Linked DNA regions of Homo sapiens. The protein of the gene in region 1 purifies or fractionates together with the protein of each later gene. This does not show direct contact. Each region holds a gene or a part of one and is shown on either strand. Other genes may lie near its edges.

Region 1 (2,597 bases):
GGGCGTGGCTGTTGAGTTTTAATTTTTAAAAATTAAATGTAAATAATGATATCACTGCGGTGGTACGATTTCTCTTGGCATTTGCGGAAGCGTTAAAGGGAAATAGAAAGGGCTTAAACTCGGCGCGTTTTGTTTTAGGCTCTTAGCAGCCTTCTTTACAAGGAAGCAACTCGAAGGGCAGAAGCAACGCTTTTCTGTGGGGAGCCCCTCTCAGCTCAGAGCAGAGGGGCTTCTTAAAGTTTTGAGGAAGGCAAAGCGTTGATATAATCCCGTTTTAAAATGTTGAGGGATAAATCCTTTATTACAGTAGAAAGTCCAAAAGGCTGTGTTTCTCCTCTCAATGAACGGCTTAGTGTTTTGTGACAGCGTGTGATACAGTGAAATTCCAGGATTTCTAATGAGCTTGATCTCAAATAACAGGCTATACAGGAGGCCGCTCCCCTGAGTTAGCATTTCAAAGGTGGCAGGAGAAGGGAAAGGAAGAAAAAGCAACACGGGACTATTTTCACCACGGTCAATTTTATTGCTTAGGAACCAGACCGGTCACTTCCAAAGGCCCCTCAGAACGACCAACAGCTGAAACCCGCGGGGCGGACTCCGTGTTGAACCGCGGACAGCGGCAACCACAGCAGCGACACGGACCTGTGCTTCCACCAAGAACAGATTCCGCAGCGGACAGCAGTCACTTGCAGTGGTAGTATTTATCCCACACAAACACCCAGCTAATGCCTTCACCCGGTCCAGGAACTCTGTAGTGTTCTAAAGTAAAATCAATAAAACATACATTTGTGTTTCATCAACAGACTCTCTAATCACCTTCTAATGCTGTACTTACTGCTATAGGAGAAAAATATTTGCAACAAGGTTATGACATGGGTTGTCTGTAGCGGAGCAATGAGGAAATGTACAGTTTTGTTTCTCTTTAATATTTTTATATACAGCCCATGTTAAAAGCAGTTTCTATTGGAAGCAAACTAGGCTATTTCTATTTCTCCCATGATATTATTGTTGTAACGTAGGATACTTGGCACCATAAAACAGTAACAAAAGACAGACAAACGGTTTACAAAATTCTTAAAAGGTACACCCAGGCTAGCTATAAACTTCACATTCAGTTCTTAATATTACACAGAAGAACGGCATGGGAGTAACGGCCCGCTGGTGCAGACGTGCTGTGGGGCCGATTTTACCCACGATGGCGAGGCCATGTGTGTTTTTTACGAATTTGTGTGTTGATGGACACACAGCTGAGCTCCTAGACTCCAATGCCGCCTGCTGATGGGACTCTCCTGTGCGTTCATACTGGAAAGTATATTTAGCATAAGTTTTGGTAAGATTTATAAATTATTTTTAAAAAGTATATATTTATATATATTTATATATATATAAAAATGGAAAGCAGCTGCAGTGTGATTCAAAAACCATGTGACACGGCGCAGAGTCAGTGCCGCGGAAGGAGCATCGGCAGAGACAGACCCCCTTGCCATGCTCAGGGCCACGCTGCCGGCCGGCAGAGGGAGTGCCCGTCTCGGCTTCCCCAGCCCCTGGACACACCTCCACCTGGCAGAGGGGGTCCCTGGACACAGTGGGGGGTCTCTGTGCTGAAGAAGCCCCTCCACTGGCAATCATTAAAAACTGAAAACTGTGAAGTCTACGGTACAGACCCTCTTTGCTGTCTATTAGAGTTTTGACAACAGGACTGTGACTTATTTAAAAAAAAAAAAAAAAAACCAATATTTCTACTTAATGTCACATAGACAGACGAGACAGTGAGGTATGTGAGGCTGCTCCGGAATGGTCCGGAGGCTGAAGCGAAGTGTGGGGCTGGCCGTCTAGCAGGTGGCGCTTGGGCGGGTTCTCGATGCAGCTTTCAAGAGTGCGTATTCGGTCCACGGCTACAGGGAGGCTCACGAAGTGTCCTCTCGTGGCGCTGGCATCTCTTCCCTGTCACGGAATTCGTAATTTGTTAAAGGAACAAACGCACCAGGAAAAGCTGCGTAAAAGCTGAACTGGAGGGAGGAGTCATATTTACCACCACGTCACTGCACGACACAACACTTGTGCACATGGGCATGAGGTTTACCTGCCCCGGGCATGATTCGGAAGGCCAGGAACACGGGCTGCAGCAGGAAGAGAGGACGGTGTCAGCACGGCGCACGCGGGACAGCACAGCACATGCCGCCGCCTCCCGTTGCACCCCCAGACCCTGCGTCTCACCAGGGCAGCCATGAACCGGGCTGGGAGGAGCTGATGGCCAGCAGAGGCAGCTCGGCCCTTGTGCACAGCCACGGCAGCGCAGGGGTTGGGGGCCCCGTGAATGTGGAACTGGAGCCAGGCCGGCCATGAGAGGTTTTGCAAGGAAGGTGTTATTTCCAGGTAAAAAAATTAATGGAAAAACTGATGTAAAAGAATGGCTAAATAGGCCCCAAATGAAGCGGGGAAGGAAGGCTCTCCCGTCCTCGGCTCTGCCGCACCTGGCAGGTCCAGCGTCTTATCCGGGTGTGTTTGGGGCTCACAGCTCTGGGCCTCCAACGTGGAAGAAGCTAACTCATTTATTGGCTGAAAATGAGATTTGATCTGTCTCCTGTGCACACTCT
Region 2 (3,500 bases), on another chromosome or scaffold:
TGTTTCTGGAGCTTCCATTTTGTGGTATGTATTAAACAAATGTAACATAGGAGGCATCAAAGTGTGATAAGTGGTGTGGAGAATAGAACAAGGAAAGAAGATAGGCTGGGGCAAAGGAGTTGACAGAGAAACCTTCCTGATTGGATGATGTTTGAGCAGAGCTGAAGAAGGTGAGGGAGCGTTATGTGGCTATCTGAAACGAGTGTTCCAGGCAGAGCCTGTGACTATATGAGGCAGGAGTTCTTTTGGCTCAATCATTCTCTCCAAAAATCCTTCTCTGGTGCCTTGATCTGGATAGATGCCACTTTTGTGTTTTTCTACTTGCTGTTGTGTTTACCTCTAAAGTAGCACTTATTACATCATGTTATAATTGTCCATGTATATGTCTGTTTCCCTCACTTGGATTGGGTTTCTTGAGAGCAGGAACCTCTGATCCTTCTCTGTCTTCTCAGCATCTATTTTAGGGCCTGACACAGAGGAGGAACCTAGAAATATTTATTGAATCAATTGTTCTTACAGCCTGATAATATTTACAAATGATTTGTAAAATTGGGTTTGGATGACAGTTGGTTTGAGGAAAAAGTAATTCTAAGGCTGCTTTTTGTCTGTCTGGCTTGATTCCCCTTTTGGACCTCTGAGAAGTGGAACACCTGGTTTTCTTTAAGAAGAATACTTGGAGACTCCATTGTGAGCATTATGGCAGGGTAGCCAACCTGTAAAATGGTGGGTAAAATATAACAAAGCCGGCCGGGCACGGTGGCTCATGCCTGTAATACCAGCACTTTGGGAGGCCAAGGTGGGTGGATCACCTGAGGTCAGGAGTTGGAGACCAGCCTGGCCAACATGGTGAAACCCGTCTCTGCTAAAAATACAAAAAATTAGCTGGGCGTGCTGGCGGGCGCTTGCAATCCCAGCTACTTGGGAGGCTGAAGCAGGGGAGTTGCTTGAACCCAGGAGGTGGAGGTTGCAGTGAGCCGAGCTCACACCATTGCACTCAAGCCTGGGCAACAAGAGCAAAACTCCGTCTCAAAAGAAAAAAAATAACAAAGCCCTTTATAGCTGAATTTGCAAGAAAGTAAGAGAAATCTCCAGGGACCTAGAAACCAAGAGTGAACTGAAAACCAGAGTGGTTAGCTCCTTAATCTGCCCTCAGCTGCACTGGATGTCTCACCTAGAAACTTGGACTTTAATAGGCCTGTTGTTATACCAAATGAAGCTATAGGTCCGCATGGGTTAGACTCTAGTGGGTTTTTTGTTGTCGTTGTTGGTGTTTTTTTGTTTTTGTTTTTGAGATGGAGTCTTGCTCCGTCTCCCAGGCTGGAGTGCAGTGGGGCAATCTCAGCTCACTGCAAGCTCTGCCTCCTGGGTTCACACCATTCTCCTGCCTCAGCCTCCTGAGTAGCTGGGACCACAGGTGCCTGCCAGCACACCCGGCTAATTTTTTTGTATTTTTAGTAGAGATGGGGTTTCACCATGTTAGCCAGGATGGTCTCGATCTCCTGACCTCGTGATCCGCCCACCTTGGCCTCCCAAAGTGCTGGGATTACAGGTGTGAGCCACCACGCCCGGCCTGGTTAGACTCTAGTTTTTGACAGAGGATGGCATGTGAAATACTCACATGAAGCTAGGTCCCTTGAAAATCTGCACCCTGTGTAGGGTGTATACCTTCTGATAGGGTGGACTAGTATCTTAATTCACTTTCTGTTGCTTATAACAGAATACGTGAAACTGGGTAACTTATAAAGAAAAGAAATTTCTTGCAGTTATGGAGTCCGAGAAATCCAAGGTCCAGAGGCCACATCTGGTGAGGGCTTTCTTGCTGGTGGGGACTCTGCAGAGTCTGGAGGTGGCATAGGGCATCACATGGCAAGGGGGCTGATTATGCTAGCTCAGATCTCTAGTTTTCCTCTTATAAAGCCCCTAATGCACTCCCATGATAACCCATTCATCCATTCATCCATTCATGAGGACAGAGCCCTTATAACCCTATCATCTCTTAGAGGCCCCACCTCTCAACACTGCCATATCAGGGATTAAGTTTCAACATGAGTTTTAGAGGGGACAAATATCAAACCAGATCTACTAGGAAAAAAAAAAATTCTCCCTACTGACACAGATAGAAGACAAAGAGATTGCCTTTTATCCTAGGCTTTCGTACAGAAAAAAAGTTTTCCCAGAAAATTCTTAACCATAGGCATTCACTCATACAGATACCCAAATGGCCTAGAAACTCCAAGCCAAGAAGTTGATAATAAAAACCACCTCAGGCTGGTAATACCCCTGGATGCTTGGCAAAAACAAATGCAAAACCGCTCTGCTCCAAGATACATACTTGATACAGGCCACATAGAATTCCCACAGGGTCTGGAGTTAATGAAATTCTCATTTGTTAAACAAGAATGTATATTGCTTGCTTTGTGCTATTGAGAGCATATGTTATTCTTGTATAAAGAAACATTTGAATATATCTGTGCCCCCCCACCTTTGCTCTCCAGAAGTGAAATGATGAAGCAGAATTTATATGCAGGCCAGCATCTGGGTATGGACACACATTAAGCTTCCTTCTATCCTTGCAGAGGTCATGGAAGAAGTGACAACATGCTCCTTCAACAGCCCTCTGTTCCGGCAGGAAGATGACAGAGGGATTACCTACCGGATCCCAGCCCTGCTCTACATACCCCCCACCCACACCTTCCTGGCCTTTGCAGAGAAGCGTTCTACGAGGAGAGATGAGGATGCTCTCCACCTGGTGCTGAGGCGAGGGTTGAGGATTGGGCAGTTGGTACAGGTGACTCTTCATCCCAGATCTGAGTCTGGGCCTCAGTTTCTCTTCACAAAGCTCAGAGCTCTTCAGGATCTGTGCCTTTTCTCATCAGTACAGGAAAGCCCTGTGTGGGGAGCAGAGGCAGAAAAAACAGCAAAAACAATGGCTCTCACTGAGTGCTTATTGTGTGCCAGGGGCACATTGGGTCCTCACAGCCATTCTGTGTCGTAGGTACTGTTTTCAGTCATATTTTACAGACAAGGAAACTGAGACTCAGAGAGGTTGCCATTTGCTCAAGGTTATACAGCTATAATAAAGCAGTAGAAGCTGGTTTCAAACTCAGTCGCTGACTCCAGAGACCTCCACAGTTATTTAGATTCAGCTAACGTATGATGTGCCTTTCATTTATATTCCATTTAATCCTCATAAATCACCCAGGGAAGTAAGCATTGGTAGTCCAGTTTTGCTGATGAGAGATCCTAGTGCTCCAAGAGGTAAGTAACTTGCTCAGGACCACATTTAGCAGGTGACAGGGGGATACCAGTAATAACCACGCTTCTACTACTAAATGCTGTATGTGAGGTATATTTTATTATCCCCATTTTGCAGGAGGCAACCAGGCCTGAGAATTAAGGTCATTTGCTTTGGTCACGCGTCTAATAAGTGGGAGAACTGGAGTTAGAGCCCTTCCTCTTCAGTAGAACATTTTGACTGTATTTTTAGTGAGGAAAGAAGG

The links. Proteins that work in one complex are often made in the same cells at the same time.
Region 2: the proteins of INPP5A (region 1) and NEU3 fractionate together in Homo sapiens (co-fractionation; one large-scale study listed by BioGRID). This does not show direct contact.

What each region holds. Positions count from the first base shown.
Region 1 is NC_000010.11:132,781,384-132,783,980, reverse strand, and holds the end of INPP5A (inositol polyphosphate-5-phosphatase A), read right to left. Parts: intron 2,121-2,597; coding exon 2,040-2,120; 3' UTR 2,033-2,039; intron 1,945-2,032; 3' UTR 501-1,944; downstream 1-500. UniProt on the Homo sapiens protein: Phosphatase that specifically hydrolyzes the 5-phosphate of inositol 1,4,5-trisphosphate to inositol 1,4-bisphosphate, and inositol 1,3,4,5-tetrasphosphate to inositol 1,3,4-trisphosphate. Plays a crucial role in the survival of cerebellar Purkinje cells.
Region 2 is NC_000011.10:74,991,933-74,995,432, forward strand, and holds part of NEU3 (sialidase-3), read left to right. Parts: intron 1-2,576; coding exon 2,577-2,788; coding exon of another isoform or gene 2,789-2,995; exon of another isoform or gene 2,996-3,106; intron 3,107-3,500. UniProt on the Homo sapiens protein: Exo-alpha-sialidase that catalyzes the hydrolytic cleavage of the terminal sialic acid (N-acetylneuraminic acid, Neu5Ac) of a glycan moiety in the catabolism of glycolipids, glycoproteins and oligosacharides.